Regions from separate parts of the Homo sapiens genome. Here all the other regions are linked to region 1. The links come from fine-mapping of genetic effects on gene expression. A gene starts in region 1. Each other region holds a variant in brackets. All regions are shown on one strand. Distances are from middle to middle.

Region 1 (8,192 bases):
ATAACATGTATCAATATTACTTTTCCAATGACTCTTTCCACACCCCAGCATAGCAAAGTCAAATTTCTTTGCAGAAGAAATTAAACTTTGATGTGTACAAACTATTTTAAATGTTTTAGGAAGAAAATTGCATACGTTTGTACTTATTAATAATACTTAGATAGTTATGTAGTTCTTGGAGAGCTTTGTAAATGTGTTGAAGATGGGACCTAAATTGTTGTGTAAGCATAAAACCAGTTTTAGTGACTAAAGGTATGCCGAAAACAAGAAAATATAGGAAATACTAATAAAATATTTATCTAGTATTTAGATACAAGTGTGCATGTAATCTCAGAAGCAAATTATTCTATTTTCGGTTTAGGAGATATTTATGCTTCCCCTAATTTCTCTACCTACTTCTAACACATGGATACTTATTTCACATGCAGTGGAACCATGAACACATACTTGGATATGTGCAGGTTCAATACAGATCTACAAGTATATTTTTCTCCACCCAGGTAATTGTTCTTTCCACACATAATTCATTAAGACATTAAAAATAGCATTTTCCATTACTTGAAATGGTCACTTTAACTCCAAGAAAAGCTGCAAAAGTGCATCCTGAGCTGCTATTTACAAAGCAATGTATAGCCCAAAACAAGCACTGAGCATCACATTTAATAAGACACTGTTCAATATATTAAAGTGAGATGGAGAAAAGAATCGTGACACTATTGAATAGTTTATACTAAATTTTTATAAATTATTGAAAAAGTAGTTTTATAAATGGATTATTGCCACTGTCACTGTCAGTTATTTTGCTTAATAATATATTGTAAAACATCTGAAAAATGAGGTATATGTAAAAAATCTGAAAAATATAATAGTGACTACAAATATAAAATATAAATTCATAGTTTATAAATTCTGTCTGAAAGGCAGAATCCTGTAATTTTGATGTTCATAGAAAAACATTTCATGTATTGAAGACTATCTTTTATGCTTTTACAAAATAATAATTAACATACTTCTGAAAATTCCAAAGCTAAAATTTCAATTTTTGAACCATTCACTTACCTTAATTAAAAATTTAAAAATGAGTTTATAAGCTGCTATGTAATGTAAGTGTAACTTTGGGAGGTCCTCATATTAACATTGTCCCTCCATATCAACAAAGTGAGAATGTGAATTTAAGTGCTTTTCGTTATTTGTGTTATAGAAAAACCTTATCAAACTTGGAAAAAAAACAATTTGGTACAATTACCTTTAATTACACAATGCTAAGCGTTTTGTCTTCTCAAAGTGATCTTGACTTGAGTGTTTTAGCTTTGAATTCTTTTTTCTAGTATTAGTATATCCTAAGTATGAGGTATACTGTTTATCTAAAAATATTATGTTTGTATATATTTTTAAACCTTTGTGTATAATTTTCATTCTGATGAAATCTTATACTGCATATATAATTTTTAAAAATTAGTTGGAATTATTTCAACTTGATGGGAAGTTTAAATTATTTTTATATCCAAAACCAATGTTTGTTCTGCCTTTGTCATCTTTTTTTTTCCACTTTGTATTCTCTGTTTCTCTACTTTATGAGAGAGATGCCTTATGTTGTTTAGCTTTTCTAGTAATCTTAAGTAAAACTTTCTCTTTTTTTTCCTTCTAGTGGTTTCTTTTATACATTCCAAGTAATATTAGGTTGGTGCAAAAGGAATTGTGGCTTTGCCATTACTTTTAATGGTAAAAACCGCAATTATGTTTGCACCAATCTAATAATACTTAGATTATAATTTAATAATTATCAAAATAAAGTGTTTCGGGTGAGTCATTCACTTTTTCATTTACTTATTTGTTTATTTATTTTAAAATTGACATTTATTGAGTATCTAATATGAGAGATTTGATTTGCTCGGCTCTGAGGATGCTTTACCAGACACTGTCCTTACATCGGTGATTTCACTGAATTTTGGAGAATTCCTAAATATAAGTTGATTTTCATAATATCATGAGGGAAATATTATTAAAGAGAATAATTGTTTGAACAAATCAATTTCTTACCCCTAGTCAAGGCTATTGGTAGCTACATTATCTTAAAATAATTTAAAGGATGGGTCGCTATCATGTCCAAAGGACATTTGAGACCTCCTGATGATGGTTCTGCTTGAAGAATGTATAGGGATTAGCTACATTTGAGGGGAGTGGGCAAAGGGAGCACCAAGGAGATAGAGGTTTGCCTATCACAAAGCTGAGAATGTCAGTGCGATATGAGTAGGAAACAGCAAACAGCAACAGAAGAAAATGCTGTTCCTACCACTTTGACCTGTCAGAATTCTAATCATGCTCCAGGTCTGGAAGCATCTGTCCTCTTCTCTAGGAGCATCTCCTGAGGCTAGGTTAGACACACAGGTGCTCCTATGACACCCAGTATAACTCTGACATTTTGTAATGACTTGAGTACATATCTTTGAGGAGCATGCCTATTAACAAGTTTAACCTGTGTTTTTCTACTATTTTCAAAACAAGTTGCCTTTTGATAAATCTGATCTGTCCTCTTCATCTTACCCAATAAGGCAGAACATGTGACTGTACTTCCTATCAGATGCTAATCTTAAAACAGTGTATTTTATTAATGGAGGTTAGGATGAATACCTCCTCTGATGGGGCACAAAAGAGAGTTCATTTGGTGGCACTCATGATTCCTATGGTGTTAATTTTTGTAAGCATTGCCAAAATGGCTGCCAGCCTGAGTAGAAAATACAAATATGGGTATTGAGCACTTAAAATGTGGTAGCATGTTTTAACATATTACGTCCTTTAATCCTCTTGGCAATTTAATTTTTGTTATTATAAATTCTAACATACATATGCAATTTTACAATTAATCCAATTACATGTTGATTGATTTTTACAACCTGAATCTTGTATATCTCACAACCAAATCAAGTAAGGGAATATGACCAGCAACTAACAGGACCCTTCTACCACATACTGCCTTTCAGTTATCACTCTCTCTCACTTTTTAAAAAGATTTTTCTATTTCTAATAGCACAGAATAATTTGATCCGTTTTTGTATTTCATTTAAAGATCACAAGATGTTACATCTATTTTAAGTCTTTCTAAAAAAAATTAACACATATTGTGAGATTCGTCTATATTATGCATATAGTCATAGATTGTTTATTCTTATTGTTACGTGGTATTTCATTGTGGGAATGTACCAAAATTTATTTACCCATTTGATGTTGATGAACATTTAGGTTTTTTCCAGTTTTAGGCTATACTACAAATCATGTTTCAATAAGCATTCTAATTGATGTATTCTAGTAAATATATATACATAGTTTTGTTGGAAATGGCAATGGTGGTCATGTGTATGTTTATCATTATGAGATATCTAATAAAGAGTTGTTCTAATTTACATGTCTACCAGCAGTAAATGAGAGTTCCAGTTGTTCTACATCTTTGCCAATGCTTGGTATTTTTAGTTCTTTTCATTTTAGCTGTCCTGTTTGGTATGTCACTACATACCAAAAAAAGGTGCTTTGTCATGAGAGATACAATTTTTACTTATTTTTCTGATTAATATAAAAGTTTGTGCCTATTTACCTGTTCATTGGCAATTTTATTTCTCTTTTGAAGTGTATGTTTCTTCCTGCAACTTTTTCTTACTGATGTTGTTGAAGTACTTTATATATTTTCTGTATGTATGCATTTGGATATCTTCTAGTTTGCGTTGACTAGATACATAAAGAACAAGAAAGATATCTTGAAAAGTGAAAAAATTGAATCAAAACTTCATTGACTTTTTTAATTTTAAATTTTTGTGGGCACATAGTAGGTGTATATATTTATGGGTGTATGAGATATTTTGATAGAAGCATACAATGTGTAATAATCCCTTTTAAAGGGCCGGGCACAGTGGCTCATGCCTGTAATCCCAGCACTTTGGGAGCCTGATGTGGGTGGATTACCTGAGGTCAGGAGTTGGAGACCAACCTGACCAATATAGTGAAACCCCATCTCTGCTAAAAATACAAAAATTAGCTGGGCGTGGTGGCATGTGCCTGTAGTCGCAGCTACTCGGGAGGCTAAGACAGGAGAATTGCTTGAATCCGGGAGGTGGAGGTTGCAGCCAAGATTGCGCCACTGCACTCCAGCCTGGGCAACAAAGCAAGACTCTGCCTCAAAAAAAAAAAAAAAAAAAAAAAAAAATCCCAGTAAAGTAAATAGGGGTATCCATCATCTCAAACATTTATCCTTTGTGTTACAGACAACCCAATTATATTATTTTAGTTATTTTAAAATATACAATTAAATTATTATTGAGTATAGACACCCAATAAATTTACTAATTTTTGAGACCCCAAGCTTCATTGAGTAATAATTTAATTAAAATTTCAAAATTCTTTGAACAGTGCCTGAGTACCCAAGAATAAATATCAGTCAGTCATTAAGAATAAAAATTAAAAAGTCAACATCTCATCTCTCAGATCATCAGTGAGGTAATCAAATGACTCTTCTTTAAAATTATATCTATATTGAGATGAGTATAGTTATAGTTAAGTAAGATATTCTAATAAAAATACCATTTGAAAAGTCAGAATTATACTTGATTATAAATCTATGAGATTGGGAATATGTCTTTTTATAAAATAATTGATGTTTGATTGGCATCTGTGTTGAAAACTTAGACTGCTCAATAAGAATTTTTTACTGAATCAATTAATTAATCAATCAATAAAACTAAACAGACAAACAAAATTATTTCTTGGCACTCAGAAATTTGGTTGTTGGACCATTAAAATGCATTATGGAATTTTTAAAAGTTGGGGGAGAGGGAGACAGTAAAAATAACCTATATTTTCTCTTGTTTTTTTTTTTAACTCTAGGAAAGCCCAGACAAATTTTGAGCTATTTCATAACCTACCAGACTTATCATGCTAACACTGAATAAAACAGACCTAATACCAGCTTCATTTATTCTGAATGGAGTCCCAGGACTGGAAGACACACAACTCTGGATTTCCTTCCCATTCTGCTCTATGTATGTTGTGGCTATGGTAGGGAATTGTGGACTCCTCTACCTCATTCACTATGAGGATGCCCTGCACAAACCCATGTACTACTTCTTGGCCATGCTTTCCTTTACTGACCTTGTTATGTGCTCTAGTACAATCCCTAAAGCCCTCTGCATCTTCTGGTTTCATCTCAAGGACATTGGATTTGATGAATGCCTTGTCCAGATGTTCTTCACCCACACCTTCACAGGGATGGAGTCTGGGGTGCTTATGCTTATGGCCCTGGATCGCTATGTGGCCATCTGCTACCCCTTACGCTATTCAACTATCCTCACCAATCCTGTAATTGCAAAGGTTGGGACTGCCACCTTCCTGAGAGGGGTATTACTCATTATTCCCTTTACTTTCCTCACCAAGCTCCTGCCCTACTGCAGAGGCAATATACTTCCCCATACCTACTGTGACCACATGTCTGTAGCCAAATTGTCCTGTGGTAATGTCAAGGTCAATGCCATCTATGGTCTGATGGTTGCCCTCCTGATTTGGGGCTTTGACATACTGTGTATCACCAACTCCTATACCATGATTCTCCGGGCAGTGGTCAGCCTCTCCTCAGCAGATGCTCGGCAGAAGGCCTTTAATACCTGCACTGCCCACATTTGTGCCATTGTTTTCTCCTATACTCCAGCTTTCTTCTCCTTCTTTTCCCACCGCTTTGGGGAACACATAATCCCCCCTTCTTGCCACATCATTGTAGCCAATATTTATCTGCTCCTACCACCCACTATGAACCCTATTGTCTATGGGGTGAAAACCAAACAGATACGAGACTGTGTCATAAGGATCCTTTCAGGTTCTAAGGATACCAAATCCTACAGCATGTGAATGAACACTTGCCAGGAGTGAGAAGAGAAGGAAAGAATTACTTCTATTTGCCTCTTATGCAGGAGTTCATAAAATCTTTCTGGAAGCACTGTATTGATCACAAAATGGAGTTTGTTAACTGGTGCATTCTCAATAAGTACCTTGGGAATCTCAACATCATTGGAAGGCCCACCAACATTTCTATAAATTTTTTACCTTCTCACTCATGTGAAGGACCAGTCTAATAATTAAACCATATTTTATTCGACAAAACCTAATGAGTCCATTTTTTATGAAAAGACAAATCTAAGTAGAAGGAGATGATGTGAGTCTTCTTTTCAATGATCACAATTTTCAGATTAATATTTCAGATTAATAGCCAGTTATTACTTTTGTCTAGAAAACATGTGCTATATATTTCTCATAACTACCAAAAACCTGTTTCTTCAATGACATTTTCCTGAAGGAGAATCTAGAGTGCATGCCATAAAGTCTAAAATGAGTTTTAAGTCTCTAAGCATCTAGCTAAAATATTATTAGGCTGAATAGGTCACATAATTATTTCACAACAGAATAATTGGATATTTCGTTTTCTTTAAAGGGGCTTTTTAAAAAGCACAGAGCCTGGAAAGAGAGGTAGAGATCTTAACCAAAAATAAAAAACAGTATAATTTTTTTCTAAGACCTGTATGAAAGGGGATCAAAATCTACTTGTTTCATTTTATCTCTAATTGTGAATCTAATAAGGAAAATTAGGTATATATTTCTAATATTTAAGATTTATCTAAATTAAAAAACAAGTGAGAAACTATAGAACATAGTATTTTCATATTAATGTCTCATAAACTAAGCCAATTATATAAGGAATATAAACTCAACTTTTACTGTTATTTTTCTGTGTCCAACTGACAAGAAAACATGTACTTCCCTGAAATTTAGTTAACTATAGTCGTCAAATTGCATTTATTCACTTAGTGAATCCTTCTTGACTATGTTGCATTTTACAAGCTGGCCAAACAGCAGTACCCACTAAAATATTATTATCCTCCATGTATCGCCCTATTTCAATATTTGCTACCCTAAAGCTAAAAGTCATCAGTATTCTCTTTACTTCCTCAACCTGACATCACTCTTCTCCTAGTTTGTCTTTCTCTTATCCCAGTTGTTATCTGAAATTGCTATTGTCAACTTCACCAATGCTTTTCCATGTTAACAAACTAAATAGTCCTCCTTCTTTGCTCATCTCACACTCTCTCAGGAATATTGATTTCAACTCAGTATTTCCAATATCTTGAAACACTATATCATTTTTATTTACTTCAGAGACACTACATATTTCATTTATGTAATACACTTTGTTTAACTTTGATTTGTTTTCTACATTCTCTTCCTAGGTGTTCTCCTTTAGTGTCATGGTCTTAAGTATTGGCTATAAAACTAATGATTCCCCAAAGGAAGCTAAGGTTCAGAGAACTGTTTTCCACGTACTTATTCTTCATGGCATACTATCTTTCTTAGACAGGTCAATATCTCCTTTTTCCCCCTGCATTCTCCATGTCTACTCCAATTTTCCATGTCCTGCTCCTCCAGTTTATCTCCCAGTGATTTTGGCATAACGTTTGTTATATTTTAGTTTCCTTAAAAATAGATGTTATTATTCAGTGATTTTATGTGTTTTAATTTAAATACATTTTATTGTGCTAAACAACTTAATCTGCTAATTTCTCACTCAATACTTTAAGATGTATTTATCTTAAATATCTTGGAACATGTATTTATATTTTATACTTGTCAATGTAATGTATATTACTTATTTCAAAATTGTTAAGTTGGCTAGATACAGTTTTGATAAAAAATTTGCATCTACTAACTTCACAACACACAAAAATCACCTGTGCTTCCATACACTATCTTGAACAATGTGAAATGGAAATTAAGAAAACAATCTTTTTTACAGTAATAATATTAAAAAGAATATAACACTTTGGAATAAATTTAACCAAGAAGGCAAACACTTATAAACTGAAAACTACAAAACTTTTTTTTAAAGAAGATGCAAATAAATGGAAAGATATTTTATGTTCACATTTTAGAAGACTTGCTAGTGTTAAAATTCTCGTACTGCATGAGGTAACTATGAACTTAGTGCAATCCTTATTTAATTCCCAATGAAAATTTTTATAGAAATAAAAAAGCAGTGCTAATATTCATGTGGAACCACAAAGGACTATAAATAACCAAAACAATCTTAAGAAAGAACAAAGTTGAAGGCCTCACACCTCATTATTTAAAAACATATTATAAAACGACAACAATTAAAACAGTAT
Region 2 (8,192 bases), 29 kb before region 1:
TGGGCACCCAATGACTTGCCCAGCATCAAATCAATGAGTTGTAGAATGCTACTTACTTTGCCAAGATAAGGCTAAGCTGTGTGTGTAGGTGTGTGTGTGTGTATTTGTGTGTTCAAGGGGAAGGTAAAATGGAGAAGATTGCTTAGGAGGAGTCAAAAAGGACAATGAATGTTCAAGATTGAATTTAGTCACTATGTTATCCTTACTGCAGAAGACTTACACTTGAGCAACAGAACTGGTTCCTTCCTTATAAGCCTAGGGAATATGTACAGAAAACATAATCTGAAATTCCCAGAGAAATTTCAAAGGAAAAGGAGAAAATGGGAAACTCTTACTCTTAGAAGGTGGATATGCATTCTAACAAATTTTATATTTATAAAAATTCCTAGAGTCAACTGTTCTGCTTGTCTCAACTAATTCCAGCATATGACAAGAATCTCTAGCAAAGAGAAAATTCTGAGAATGTTCTGTGAAGGGTCATAGTTATAAAAGTCAGTGTTATATTGGAAGTCTTGGTTACAGAATTCTGCCAGGCCATTTCTCTGGAAATCAAGGAAGAAATCATGAACAAGCACTTGGAGTGGTGTGTAGAGTTCAGATCGTGTGCCAAGATATGTGAATACATTAAGTTCAGGAGATATTGTTTATCACTTCCAGACATTGATTTGGAATATAGTGGCAAATATTTTAAGACTCATGAAGTTTGTAGCCTGAAATATTTTAGGATTTTTCATCATATTGTATAGCTAATATGTAAAGGCAGAATTCAGTGAAAAAGACACCTACTTTAAAAGCCACATGACCACTATTTAAATGAGACTCTTAAAATGTCAGGAAAATAAATGCAACTTTTCCAGAGTGTTGTTCTAGTTATACTAATAATTAAGGCTTGAAGTAAACAAAAAATTTAATAACATAGGCTCAGAAAGGTGGGATATTTCAGAGCTTGAAACAAACAGTCCAACCTTCAGGAGAAAAAAAAAAGAGAGAGAACTAACCAGGAAGTGCCTTTTCTATAAATGGAAGACCAGAGATCAAGGAAAATTTGCAGGAGCATTAATGGCTGAAGAACAGAGTACTGCTTGTCTGAAATAAGTACTAAGCACATATTTAAGCCACTACAAACCTACAAAGAAAAAAAAGTCGTCAGCAAAATGTTGTGCTTAACAATTTTTTATTTTTATTTTTATTTTTTTTTATTTTATTATTATTATACTTTAAGTTTTAGGGTACATGTGCACAATGTGCAGGTTAGTTACATATGTATACATGTGCCATGTTGGTGTGCTGCACCCATCAACTCGTCATTTAGCATTAGGTATATCTCCTAATGCTATCCCTCCCCCCTTCCCCCCACCCCACAACAGTCCCCAGAGTGTGATGTTCCCCTTCCTGTGTCCATGTGTTCTCATTGTTCAATTCCCACCTATGAGTGAGAACATGCGGTGTTTGGTTTTTTGTCCTTGCAATAGTTTACCGAGAAAGATGATTTCCAGCTTCATCCATGTCCCTACAAAGGGCATGAACTCATCATTTTATACTCATAAAAAATTCCATAATTTTTTATAATTTTTGCTTATCTCTTTATTTTGAACTTGTATCTATCAATCTTGTTGAAATCTTTATAGACTAACAAATTCTCTGTAGATTCTCTTATACTTTCTATGCAAATTGTAATACCATTCATGCTTCCTATTTTTTAATTATCTTTTCTTCTTATTGCATGGCTGTGACCTTTGGTACAATACTCAATATGGAAGGAGCAGGGGGATTGCGTACTCCTTTTTATTCTTGCTTTAGAAGCATTTAGAAATGCTTCTAACATTTTTACCATTTATTACACATTTCTAATTTTTTAGTTCAGCAATATCTCATACTACTTGTGTCTCGTATTTTCTTAAAAAGTAATATAGTCAGTCTAAGATTACATACAGATTTTCACTGGGCTTCTGTAGTAACATCATATTATACTTCCATTTTTGCAGTGTCTGATTTGTGTCTTATTTCCATTTCTAGTGCTTATTGCTAACACCCCAAATTCCTTGCAGAATACAATAATGACATAGTAAAATAAATGGAGAAAACACATTGGTTTCTTTATTAGTCAAGATTCAATCACAAACACAAAACCATTAGGAGAGATATATACATACACATACACATTCAAGGGATTGGCTTACATAACTGTGGAGGCTGGCTAGGCAAGTCCAAAGTTCACAGAGTGGACAGTCAGAGAAAGTAAAAATCACGAGCATGCTGGAATCTGCCCAGGCATGGGATGAAGCTGGTTTCTAGAGGTATGAGTCTTTCTTTTTCCAAGGAAGCCCTAAGCCCCTTTTAAGGTCTTTTAACCGATTAAGTCAGGCCCACCCCAGATAATTCACCTAACTTAAAGCCAACTGATTAGGGTATTCTGGTATATCTCCGCAACAACTTTGCAGCAACACCTGTATTCGTGTTTGAATAACTGAGAGTGGTGTGTGTGCAATGCAATGGCTGTTATTTCCCTTCCATCTTAAGTCTCACAAGAGATTATTTCCAGTAGTCCACTTATCTGAAAAGATAATAGAAAGTGAATTCCAGGGAATATAGTTTTGCCTGTGCAAGTTGACACTCCACAGGGCTATTACATTCTCCATAGAATGCATTATTCACAAATTTTCCCAGAAGTTGCTGAGAGGTAGACTTGTTTTGTGGGATGAACAAAAAAATTCCCAGTGGGTTGAAGGCTTTTGGAGGCATCTTTAGCTCTAGAAAGGTAAAATTTTTCAGGTCAAGATTCTAGGAAAGGAAAGTTGCTGCAAGCCTATTCTGCTCTAGATTTTTAACATGACTTATTAAGGATATTTGTGGTAGCCAAATTGTCCAGTAGAACTCATGAAGAGTGCAGACCAGATAGCAGTTTGGGGAGAAAAACTCAATCAAAAAACTTAAAAAAAATTTTTTTTGGGGGTGGTGTTTCTTTAAAGTATGATCTCTTGACCAACAGCATTCCCTTTAATTGGAAATTTGTTAGTAAAGGAAATTTTGAGGTCGTGCTCCAAACTCACTGAATTAGAAACTCTGGGGATGTGGACTAGCAATCTGCTTAACAGGAGCGGTAAGTAGTTTAGAAGTACAAGAACATTTTCAAACCACTGGCTTAGAGAGCCTCTCAGGAGCTAAGATAGAGTATGATCACCAGAATTCAGATCCAGTCCAGGTGTGGGCACTGTTCATGGTAAGGATAGATCTCTTTAGATAGGGTGTGGCTGAAGGAGAAAATAACCAGGGGAGCTTTTGGAAAGAGAATAAGGAGACCGACTTAAGTAAAGATGATAAGGAGTCCAACTGCCATAAACTGTGGAAAAAGACTACAGTTCTACATTGACAATTCTCCAAACTCTCCCTGCATAATGTGGAATCCAGATCATGGCAGGAGCTACTTTTCTGAGAGGTTTAAGACACTCATTCATAACT[TGAA/T]GAAGGTCAGGGATGCATGGTGGAGTAAATTACAGTAGTGGTAGGGCTATACCAAATAAATATTTGAGTATTAGAGTATTGGTACCAAGAGTAAGTTAGTCCATAGAAAAATTAGGTTTTAGGTTTAATGCAAATGAGCTCTTTGACAATATAGTTTACTGAAATAAGTACAGTGGACAGGTTTTCAGCAAAGGCCACCAGGAGATATAGGTTTGGTAATGCTTAATGCATGTCTTCTCTGGTGTGCTCAGTTCGTAAGATAATTACTTTATATGGTGAAAAATTGTCTTTAATAAGTCACATCTCCTAGATATCATGTATGGGTACAATTTCCTATTGAGTTTCATTACCATCTTGCTACATCATTCACAGGCAATATAAAAAAATCAGCAGAGCATTTTACAAAGCCAGTCAGCAAGTCTGGGAACATGTGTAGTAAATTCTCTACAGTATTAGAGTCTTAGGAAAAAGTAAACATAGCAGAATGCGCCAGAGATAATCACAGAAAAGAGTGGAGGGGAAAGAAAGCATGTCCTGGAATCCTTTGGGTGGTAGAACTGCCTTCAAGTAACCACAGTATTTGTATCCTCAATGACTCTAAAATGTTAGCTGCCCTTATGGAAATGGTGCCAGTACTGATATGTGGGGAGTTAAAACCAAACCAAAACAACAGGAAAAGAACTCCAAGGGAACAGACTACAAATATGTCTTCCCTGAATCTTTAACAAAAGCCTCTGGCTTCACCTTCACATTCTGATCTGGACTGCATTCAGAAGAGTAGGGCGTGAATGCCCAATTTCCTAGGGAACACAGAGGCTCCCTAGGCAGCTCTAGCCTTAAACTCAGTGCAAGCCAGTACACTCCCAGGGGGCTGTGAAATGTATTTCAGATAGTTGAGGGTGAGCAGAGACTTGTAATGTTCTTGCAATCTTCTGAGGATGCTTCTACACTGTGGTGCCTTCTCTTTTCTGCTCTCCTGGAATCCTGTGAGTTTGGCTAGGAAAAGACTCTGGAAAAGGCATTTCTTAGCCCTCAAGAGAAGTTTTTCTGTGCAAACTGGTTATGGAAAGTTTGCTTGAAAGCATGGAGAATAAGATTTAAAATAAAGATTTAAAGATTTGCTTGAAAGCATGGAGAATATCCAGGAAAGGAAATTTCCCCGAGTAACACCTCTGTAGAGTCTAATTTGGAATTTTAGTTAGCAGGCATCCTGAAACAGAAATTATAGTTTGGCGTTAAGCTGAGTAGTTGGAAAGGGGAACACAGTGGGGAACTACCTGGAAAGGAAGAAGCAAGTGATATGTTAACCAGATGAAAGACATGCGAGGCATTGTGAAGAAAGTTTATGGCATTCACTATAATATTCCTGAAATTACTAACAAGCAGTAATTTCTCATGAAGCATGGAAGGGGGAATTTGTGTGCCTAGTGAGATGGACAGACGCTATAAAGATGAACAGCATGAAACTAGGCAGAGGGAATCAGCAGAACCTTAGATTTCCTTGAGCTTTTTTTGCCCCTAGTATTCTGACATCAGGCACATTAGTCATCACTGTCCAGGTAAAGTCAAAGTACTCTTGTAAAATCGCTTCTTGCCACTGTGGAATGGTAACATTGAGAAGGATTTGACTATGCCCTTTCTTAGAAATTACCAGGTACAGCAGATGGAATGTGAATAAAGGATTGACCAAGATGTGGGCTGAAAAAGCTTGGAATTTTCAGTTTCATAAATAGAATGAAGTCCAAAAGGGTTACCTTCAACATTTTGGGGAAAGGATAGCTGAAGCATCTTATGAAATTTCAGATGAAGATTGAGCGGATATATGTGAAAATATATCTATAGCTTAGTAAAAAGAGTGGAAACGACTAGAGTAATATTAAGTTCAAAAATAATTACTAAGTACAGGGTCCCAAATTAGAATCTATTCCAACTTAAAGGACAAGAAAAAAAAAGTCCAAGATTACCCAGTGAACTATGTTTGTAGTTTGTGTCACCAAACTGATAGTCATGCCTAATTTCTTCTTATACTCCATAAAAGACAGTGTGTATGTATGTGTGTGTGTTTCTTTGTGTGTATGTATGTATTCAGGTATATGTGTATAGCCTTAGCTAGGAGACAATTCTAGTTTATCTAAAGGCTTATTTGAGCCTTTTCTCACGTTCATTTATTTTATTTAATAAGCATTATATATCAGGTATTATTCAAAGCTCTTTAGAAATCTTTAGACATATTAACCCATATAATTCTCTTCTCTATAGGGAATAGATATGATTATTATTGCTATTTTATGGATGATGAAGCTTTCTAAACATGATATAGCCAGTAAGTGTTACTATTCTCTCATTCCTATCTCTGTTCTATCTTGTTCCTCCAGATAATGTGATACTATGTGGAGGTTTCTGACCACAGAGAATGTCCAGCACTCTTGGCCACAACATGGAATCTCCTCATCACACTGATGTTGACCCTTCTTGTCTTCTTCCTCCTGGGCATCCCAGGTCTGGAACAATTTCATTTGTGGCTCTCACTCCCTGTGTGTGGCTTAGGCACAGCCACAATTGTGGGCAATATAACTATTCTGGTTGTTGTTGCCACTGAACCAGTCTTGCACAAGCCTGTGTACCTTTTTCTGTGCATGCTCTCAACCATCGACTTGGCTGCCTCTGTCTCCACAGTTCCCAAGCTACTGGCTATCTTCTGGTGTGGAGCCGGACATATATCTGCCTCTGCCTGCCTGGCACAGATGTTCTTCATTCATGCCTTCTGCATGATGGAGTCCACTGTGCTACTGGCCATGGCCTTTGATCGCTACGTGGCCATCTGCCACCCACTCCGCTATGCCACAATCCTCACTGACACCATCATTGCCCACATAGGGGTGGCAGCTGTAGTGCGAGGCTCCCTGCTCATGCTCCCATGTCCCTTCTTTATTGGGCGTTTGAACTTCTGCCAAAGCCATGTGATCCTACACACGTACTGTACATGGCTGTGGTGAAGCTGGCCTGTGGAGACACCAGGCCTAACCGTGTGTATGGGCTGACAGCTGCACTGTTGGTCACTGGGGTTGACTTGTTTTGCATTGGTCTCTCCTATGCCCTAATTGCACAAGCTGTCCTTCGCCTCTCATCCCATGAAGCTCGGTCCAAGGCCCTAGGGACCTGTGGTTCCCATGTCTGTGTCATCCTCATCTCTTATACACCAGCCCTCTTCTCCTTTTTTACACACCGCTTTGGCCATCACGTTCCAGTCCATATTCACATTCTTTTGGCCAATGTTTATCTGCTTTTGCCACCTGCTCTTAATCCTGTGGTATATGGAGTTAAGACCAAACAGATCCGTAAAAGAGTTGTCAGGGTGTTTCAAAGTGGGCAGGAAATGGGCATCAAGGCATCTGAGTGACCCTGGAGTATAGAGGGACTTAATCCAAAATAAAAAAAAAACCTTTTCAAGATAATCCTCAGTATGTGAGACCAGAAAGAGCTTTTAAGAGGGGGATAATGTCTTCTGCAGAACTTTCTAGACCATTTCCAAGAATGATAAATCACAGAGAAGGGCATTCTTTCTTTCCTTTCAGAGAAGTGTAAACATGGGAAGATTCTTGCAACCTGGGTAACGTGCAGATATTGAAAACAACCCACTGTGTTCTGGAGGGTTTCTACCCTGCTGCAGTTTAGAAGAGTCCCTGCATAGCCATAAGATCTCTTCTCATTTCCTGGCACCCTTCCAATATTCCAGGCATGGATTTCTAATTTCATACCTTAGGATATACCAGCTATCTTACCAGCTGCAAGAATCAGAAGATAGGACAATATAGCCACAGTTAAAGTAGTTAAAGCCGCAAAAAATTTATCATGCTTTTCCATAAACCCTGTATTTCTCCATTAGAGCTTCAAACCAAGAGGAGAAAAAGATCCACCAGCATCCACAATGTTACTTAGTGGCAGAACAAAGCTGTGAAAACTAGAATCCTTTAGGACTTCTATGAATGAGGGCACAAGAGAGGTTAGGAATAACTCTTCATTTCTAGACATTTTCTATTTATCTCACAGGTACACTCCTGTCTCCAGCCTCTCAGGAACTAACCTAAGTCTGAATGACCTTGGATATCATCCCTCACAAGCAGTTTCCAATTATTCTTGTACATACATACAATGGGAGGACCTTTCAGAAGTCATTGACTTATCTCCTGAACCTATAAGAAATGGCCACTTACCCAAACCACTCAGAATGGGAATTCTTAATTATGAAATTAGTCTGTATTTATTAATTCTTCTATTTATTTATAATGAAAAGAAGATTAAGCTTGATTCTAGTAACTCCATGTGGTGATGGAAAGTTCCTAACTATATCCATGAAACTAAGATTGGAAACCAGTTACTGTACATACTGAGCTTTCTGTCCACTCCTCACCAAATAGCTTCAGACAATTTATCAAACACATTCTCTTAACAAATTAGCATTTTCAATTTTGAGTTCGCCAATAGTACACATTTTTTGCTTGTCATCCGCTTATATGCCATCCTACCCTGTTAGGTGGAGGGAACACAAAACTCCCTTGTGGAAGTTCACAGACACTCCTGTCCTGGGAAAGTATCAGTCCTGAGGTAGAAAGCCAATGCCCAGCTCTTCAAAGCTCTGTCTCTGTCAGGAATATAAGTGTTTTATTGGGACACTTCAAATATGTTGGGATAAACAGTGCACAAATAGTGAAACTCAGTGAAGTAGGCTG
Region 3 (8,157 bases), 44 kb before region 1:
ATTCTGATGGCAAGATTTTAGTTTAAAGATGTAGCTATGAGTAAAATTATACTTGACCCCTTGAATTTGTTTTTTAAAAATTTAAACCAGTTTTAGTTGGTTTTGTCAGATATTACAACAACAAAAAAGCTAATACAGGCAGTGAAACTATTTCTGAGGGTGTGAAGTCAACTGGAGGTCAAGTCTTTGTTGGTATAAAGGGGGTCAGATCAGACAGCGGGAGATCAAATATATTGGTACATACTTGTTCAAAAAAATAAAGGAAATAATGGTTATGGTGAGAAAGAAAAGATAGCTAAAAACAGTTAAAAATGTAAACTAGTCTAGGTTAATAAAATGTTGGAATCCAGGATAAAATTTTATAGTTTCAAAGATGATGACTAAGTGGATATTGACACTATTCGGGACAGTGGGGTGTAAATAGTTGGGAAATAGTAAGTTACATTTAAGACCTACTCAGTTACTTGGTCCTGTGGCTTGTTTCATACTGAAAAATGTATGAGATCACCTACAGTGGAGTTTAGTCAGCATACACAGTGAGTACATGGAGGCCAGACAAACTTTTAGTTGAAATGCTTGCTTGCTTTTGCTCACGGCAACAGTACACTTCTTAAGGACTTTTATTATTAATTTTCATCATTAGATCCCTAAAGCCTGAAAAAATATAGGGCAAACGTATTTCGCTGTTTTGTGTCTGTTGATGTATAAAATAAAAACACAATGAATTAATGAGGTTTTCTCATTAAAAATGTATAAAAATATTAGAGCTCCTCCCTCTTTTTAAAATATATTCCTTCTTGAGATACTTGAAGCATCTTCCTAACACCCTCATCTTAGTCCTCTGCAGTGGTCAGTCTGAATCTTATCTCCACACTTTGTCCCCAGTCTGTGACCATCTATTTATTCCCACCATATCCAGGGATAGTAAGAGTGTGGGGAGGAAGGTGGATAAAACTTTGTAAGATAGGAGGGCCTATTACTTTTTTGAGCATTGCTAGACAAAATACAGGATGCTCAGTTAAAGTTTAATTTCAGATAAAAGAAATGTAATATTTTTAGTATAAGAATATCTTAAATATTATAAGGGTCATATATATAACAAAAAATATATTGTTTATCCCAAATTCTAATTGAACTAGCCACTTTTATGTTCTAAATCTGGCAACCCTATCTTGACTCATGTTTTCTATCTTTTCCCCAGGATGTGATTGACGTCATGAAAAGGTATATGTGGAAGAGAGATGTGGTCTTATTTGTCTGAAAAGAGAATTATAGTCCTGAGAGATATCTTCCTTCAATCAGAACAACTTAAAAAATCAAAAGGCTGGGAAATTTGTGTATTAAATTGTCCCAAATTGCTAGTCACAGATTAAAGTTTTCAATTGTAAGAAATTTTGGTGTTGGGAGATCACAGAGTTAGGGTCGACGGAGGCCTTAGGAATAAGAGTTTGCAATATCAGAACCCCATGACTTCACTCACTTTATTCAAACCTCTGTCTCTGTTGTTTCCATATTGCATAGATGCCTGTCTTATTGCAGTGAGGCTCTGCCCTTTTTATATGCCAGACTCCAAATTTTTCAGAGACAGCGCCTTTATGTTTGTTTTCCTCCCTGAGAATAAAATAAACAATAACTTTCTAGGTGGTGCTTTTTAGATTTCTAGAAAAATAGATTCAAGTCTTGAGGAATAGTGGCTTTGGTCCTGGTGCTAGCATAACCTTTTCTTGCTCACATACTTTACCGTCTTGTAGGAAAAAATAATATTCTTGTGTCTAAAGTTGCCCACCTACTTGGCAACATCAAAGTTTTTTTAAACACATGAAAATCAGACCACTATTAATTAATTTAGTCATCGTAATTTGTCTTTCCCCAAATAACTTGAAACCTCAGACATTATTCTCTAGGTCTCATATTGGGATAACAGATTTTGGAAACCCTTTAGCTCTTCAATATAGGATCCTACTTTGATATCTCTCAACAACTCAGGAGACAGATTCTATGGCCTCCTTAATGACCACCTGTCTAGGAACCCACATCTCTGGCCTCTTCCTGGTGGACCCACTGAGATGGCAATGACTTTTCTAAATATTAAATAAGTTTTTTAGAGGCACTGAATATCTTTTAAAAGCATTATTGGCTGGGTGCAGTGGGTCACGCCTACAATGCTAGCACTTTGGGAAGCCGAGGCAGGCGGATCACTTGAGGTCAGAAGTTCAAAACCAGCCTGGCCAACATGGTGAAACCCTGTCTCTACTAAAAGTACAAAAAAATTAGCTGGATGTGGTAGCAGGCACCTGTAATCCCAGCTACTTGGGAGGCTGAGGCAGGAGAATGGCTTGAACCTGGGAGGCAGAGGTTGCAGTGAGCCGAGGTCGCGCCACTACACTCCAGCCTGGATAACAGAGTGAGACCCCATCTCAAAACAAACAAACAAACAAACAAACAAAAGCATTATTATTTTATCTAATTTTATATTCATTTTTAAGAGGTAGAAAGCATGGGGTTAATTATTGCATTTTAAAAGTAAGAAAGCGAACATCGTTGAAGTGAAGACCTTCCCAAGATTACACAGAGGGGAAGACCTTCCCAAGATTACACACAGACAGGTAGACATGAGCACATTTCTCTGGACTCCAGTGTCAGGCATCTCCCCTCTACTGTCCTCAGGGAAGAGGGTCCAAGTGCGTCAGCAAGTATGGTGAAAGGTGAAAGAGACAGTGATCTTGGATGGAGAGAAATAGGGCAAAGGTGTAAAGGTTATCAATTTTTGTTATCACTAGGAGTGAAAGCTGGACATTGAAGAAGCCAAAATCTGTTTCCAAGAAACTAAAGAGTGTATTCCGAGTACCAGATCTGAGTGGGATGCTGCAAGTTCTTAAAGGTAAGGGGATTCAGGGGAAGGCTGTGAATGTGGATTTCTTAGTATCAGGGCTCAATAGGGAAGCGGGAGGTTTTTTTAGGTTAGGATATAGGAGAGGAGGTGGGCCAGAGAAGGAGGAAAATCCTGTGCTGTAGATGTGGTCCTGTCTTAGGGGGAATGACCAGGTGTCTGATTCATCCTCTCATTCACCAGTGCAAAGAATCCCAGTATTCCCCCTTTCCTTTCCCTACTCTGGAGAAGAGACAGGTGTCAGTACTTACTTATTTGCTTCTAACAACATCACTGAAACTTTTGTCGTTTCAGAGCTGACAGATGTCCAGTACTACTGGGGTAAGATGATATGGGGTTTTCAAATCACTTCCTTTCAGAATTGTGGTTACTATTAGATCTCATAATCTGAGTCTCATGTGTTCCTCCCCAAACATGCTTAAACCATGTAGTTCTTTTTTTTTTTTTTTTTAAGATAGATTTTTGCTATTGTTGCCCAGGCTGGAGTGCAATGGCGCGGTCTCGGCTCACTGCAACCTCTGCCTCCTGGGTTCAAGCGATTCTGCTGCCTCAGCCTCCCAAGTAGCTGGGATTACAGGCGTGTGCCACCACGCTTGGCTAATTTTTATAGTCTTACACCCTGTATTTCTTAAGGGTCCTACTAACCTCTGACTATCAACACAAGTTCCGTTTGATATCGACACAAGTTTCATTTTCAATATGTCTCTTCTCAATGCTGTAAGACACACCTATCCCATATCCTTCACTTGACTTGGTAATTTTTTCTACAGTGGACGTGATG[C/T]TGAATCCAGGCAGTGCCACTTCGAATGTTGCTATTTCTGTGGATCAGAGACAAGTGAAAACTGTACGCACCTGCACATTTAAGAATTCAAATCCATGTGATTTTTCTGCTTTTGGTGTCTTCGGCTGCCAATATTTCTCTTCGGGGAAATATTACTGGGAAGTAGATGTGTCTGGAAAGATTGCCTGGATCCTGGGCGTACACAGTAAAATAAGTAGTCTGAATAAAAGGAAGAGCTCTGGGTTTGCTTTTGATCCAAGTGTAAATTATTCAAAAGTTTACTCCAGATATAGACCTCAATATGGCTACTGGGTTATAGGATTACAGAATACATGTGAATATAATGCTTTTGAGGACTCCTCCTCTTCTGATCCCAAGGTTTTGACTCTCTTTATGGCTGTGCCTCCCTGTCGTATTGGGGTTTTCCTAGACTATGAGGCAGGCATTGTCTCATTTTTCAATGTCACAAACCACGGAGCACTCATCTACAAGTTCTCTGGATGTCGCTTTTCTCGACCTGCTTATCCGTATTTCAATCCTTGGAACTGCCTAGTCCCCATGACTGTGTGCCCACCGAGCTCCTGAGTGTTCTCATTCCTTTACCCACTTCTGCATAGTAGCCCTTGTGCTGAGACTCAGATTCTGCACCTGAGTTCATCTCTACTGAGACCATCTCTTCCTTTCTTTCCCCTTCTTTTACTTAGAATGTCTTTGTATTCATTTGCTAGGGCTTCCATAGCAAAGCATCATAGATTGCTGATTTAAACTGTAATTGTATTGCCGTACTGTGGGCTGGAAATCCCAAATCTAGATTCCAGCAGAGTTGGTTCTTTCTGAGGTCTGCAAGGAAGGGCTCTGTTCCATGCCTCTCTCCTTGGCTTGTAGAAGGCATCTTGTCCCTATGACTCTTCACATTGTCTTTATGTACATCTCTGTGCCCAAGTTTTCCCTTTTTATTAAGACACCAGTCATACTGGCTCAGGGCCCACCGCTAATGCCTTAATGAAATCATTTTAACATTATATTCTCTACAAAGACCTTATTTCCAAATAAGATAATATTTGGAGGTATTGGGAATAAAAACTCCAACATATAAATTTGAGGAAGGCACGATTTCACTCATAACAATCTTACCCTTTCTTGCAAGAGATGCTTGTACATTATTTTCCTAATACCTTGGTTTCACTAGTAGTAAACATTATTATTTTTTTTATATTTGCAAAGGAAACATATCTAATCCTTCCTATAGAAAGAACAGTATTGCTGTAATTCCTTTTCTTTTCTTCCTCATTTCCTCTGCCCCTTAAAAGATTGAAGAAAGAGAAACTTGTCAACTCATATCCACGTTATCTAGCAAAGTACATAAGAATCTATCACTAAGTAATGTATCCTTCAGAATGTGTTGGTTTACCAGTGACACCCCATATTCATCACAAAATTAAAGCAAGAAGTCCATAGTAATTTATTTGCTAATAGTGGATTTTTAATGCTCAGAGTTTCTGAGGTCAAATTTTATCTTTTCACTTACAAGCTCTATGATCTTAAATAATTTACTTAATGTATTTTGGTGTATTTTCCTCAAATTAATATTGGTGTTCAAGACTATATCTAATTCCTCTGATCACTTTGAGAAACAAACTTTTATTAAATGTAAGGCACTTTTCTATGAATTTTAAATATAAAAATAAATATTGTTCTGATTATTACTGAAAAGATGTCAGCCATTTCAATGTCTTGGGAAACAATTTTTTGTTTTTGTTCTGTTTTCTTTTTGCTTCAATAAAACAATAGCTGGCTCTACTGAAGTCTCATTCTTCAGTTTCCAAAATCTTGCTGCAGATAATATGAGTTTCCATATGTCCAGTAAAGAAGGTCATGTCTAGGCTCAGCTGTCCTTGATAAGAGACAGCCTTATGCTGTTCAGATCTGTTTCTCGTAATGAAACACTTGTGTGTACCATTGCATTTACCATCCTAGGTACTTTTCTTTTTTTTTTTTTTTAAGTCTTTTTTCAAACACAGGATGAGTAGTAGAACTACCTAGGATAGCAAAGACACAAAACATTCTTGAAGAAATATATTGTATTAGTCGGGGTTCTCCAGAGAAACAGAACAATAAGAGATATGTATTTATTATGAGGAATTGGCTTACTTGATTATGGAGGCTAAGACTTCCCATTATCTGCCATTTGGAAACCAGAGACCCAAAAGCTGGTGATATAAGTCAGTGTGTCTCTGAAGCCCTAAGAACCAGGGAGCTGATGGTATAAATGCCAGTACAAAGGCAGAAAAAGATGAGGTGACATGTCTCAGCTCAAGTACTGCGGCAGGAAAAGAAGCAAATATCTTCTTCCTCAACCCTTTCTCCTACTCAGATCCTTTATGGATTAGATGATGTCCAGCAACTTGGGGGAGGGCAAGCTTTGGAGAGGTAGCCATTACTGAGTCCAGCTATTCAGGTGCTAATCTTTTTCAGAAACACCCTTACAAATACAACCAGAAACACCCTTACAAATACAACCAGAAATACCCTTACAAATACCACCAGAAATAATGTTTAATCCGGGCAATCTATGACCAGTCAAATTAGCATGTAAAATTAACCATCATGTATACATTATAAATTAGGGCAGGTTATGCCATTGTACAGAATTCACATCAAGATTTGTTGGACTTTGAAGAAAGGAATAGTGTGAAAGTGCCTGGCTTGAGATTGATATAGACATGTATACACATTCATTCATATATCTATACATATAGGTATATATACATATAATAATATGTATAAATATATTATAGATACACACATGAACATTATCCAAGATAATCTGTACAAATATCATAAAAAGGAGATTTTTTTTTTTTTTTCTGAGACGGAATTTTGCTGTTGTTGCCCAGGCTGGAGTGCAATGGGACGATCTCGGCTCACTGCAATGGCACAATCTCTGCTCACTGCAACCTCTGCCTCCTGGGTTCAAGCAATTCTCCTGCCTCAGCCTCCCGAGTAGCTGGGATTACAGGCACGTGCCACCATGCCCGGCTAATTTTTTTTGTATTTTTGGTAGAGATGGGGCTTCGCCATGTTGGCCAGGCTGATCTCGAACTCCTGACCTCAGGTGATCTGCCTGTCTTGGCCTCCCAAAGTGCTGGGATTACAGGCGTGAGCTACCGTGCCTGGCCAAAGAGAAATTTATATAAAGGGGTTGAAGGAGTCAATAAGCTGTTAGAGTTTTCCTGATGGTCCCAAAGCTATTGAGTAGAAGAGGCAGGATTAATACCAGGCCTGTGTTACTAAGCACCTATGCTCACTCCTCTGTACCACACTGCCATGGAGAAGGCCGCAGCCAATTTCCCAGGAGATGGGGACAGAAGGGAGAGCCCAGGAAATGCTGATCTGCAGGAGTTTTAAGAAAAACTTTAGGTGCCATCAAATGTAAATTGATAATCTGAATACATATAGCCATAAATGAGGAAGAAGGACATGGAAGCACTTTATGACAAGTAGGCTATTGCAGATGACATGACGAAAATGTTCCCTCCTCTTGGTGTAGAGGATGAACTTTATAATTGAATGGTTACAAACTTGCATTCTGAAAACAGGTGGAATTTTACATAATGATGACATAGCCACCTAGTGGCCCTTATAAGACCTACCTGGCAGTGATATTATGAGAATTAAATAATAGTATATTTGTAATAACTTCTGCTATTTCATGGAACATATGCACTGACACAAGAGTGGTATATGTTATTTTTTTTCTTGGATTCTTTTCTCTGACTTGAGAAAAATAATTTTAAGAATGCATACTAATTTAGTTTTGAAATAATTAACTGTTTTAAGAAATAGAATAATCTGAGTAAAGAATCAAAGTCCTTAACATTTTTCAATTGAATTATTAATAAAGATTATATTAATGTACAGTATTTTACCCATGCAGGTAAAAGTTGCATTAGCTTTCTTTGCTGCATTAAAATAGGCTATTGCAAATTTAGTAGCAAGATAAATGTAAGATAACATTTGTTATGTTACAGTATCTGTGGATCAGAAGTCTGGACCCAGCTTAGATGGGTTTTCTCCTTCACGATCTCTCCATAATGAACTCACAGTGCCAGCTGGGATGAGTTTTCATGTGGAGGTCAGAGTAGGGAAGGACCTATTTCCAAGCTAACTTAGGTTATTAGTAGAATTCAGTTCCTTGCTCGTGTAGGACCTAGGCCCTCTGATCCTGAAGACTGCCTGAAGTTTCTTGCTACATGAACCTCTCAATAGGTAGTTCATACTATGGTTGTTGCCTCTTCAAGGCCAACAGGAGAAGAAGACTATTTTAGTGAGAAGGCCTTACATAATATAAGACAACCATGGTAGTAACATCCCATCACTTTTGCCACATAATGTTGCTTATAAGGAATTCAGAAATTCTGCCTACTCTAAAAAGGAAGAAATTTTATAAAGGCATGAGTATAAAGAGGTGGAAATTAGTGGGTGT

Direction of the effects. Alleles are on the strand shown, and positions count from the first base shown. SD is a standard deviation of normalised expression in the study named. Not every link is listed here.
With allele C in place of T in region 3, the expression in whole blood of the gene that starts at base 4,423 in region 1 is lower (moderate effect, 0.61 SD a copy in GTEx).

The links. PIP is the estimated chance that this variant, and not a neighbour inherited with it, causes the effect.
Region 2: its variant is fine-mapped to the expression of OR52N4 in whole blood (TOPMed, PIP 0.97).
Region 3: its variant is fine-mapped to the expression of OR52N4 in whole blood (TOPMed, PIP 0.97). The same link has a PIP of 0.9 or more in lung.

What each region holds. Positions count from the first base shown.
Region 1 is chr11:5,749,821-5,758,012 of GRCh38, forward strand. OR52N4 (olfactory receptor family 52 subfamily N member 4) reads left to right here and starts at 4,423. Exons shown (of 2, transcript NM_001005175.5): 1 at 4,423-4,485; 2 at 4,873-6,138. The coding sequence starts at 4,921. The coding sequence ends at 5,886.
Region 2 is chr11:5,720,603-5,728,794 of GRCh38, forward strand. It overlaps a transcript of OR52N4 not described here and the pseudogene OR52P1. Among named protein-coding and RNA genes, the nearest start is that of OR56B1, 12 kb to the right of the region's middle. The variant TGAA/T (reference allele first, on the strand shown) is at 3,460.
Region 3 is chr11:5,705,393-5,713,549 of GRCh38, forward strand. It overlaps TRIM22 (tripartite motif containing 22), which reads left to right. Exons shown (of 8, transcript NM_006074.5): 5 at 1,202-1,224; 6 at 2,781-2,881; 7 at 3,185-3,211; 8 at 3,661-5,471. The coding sequence ends at 4,256. Among named protein-coding and RNA genes, the nearest start is that of TRIM22, 20 kb to the left of the region's middle. The variant C/T (reference allele first, on the strand shown) is at 3,672.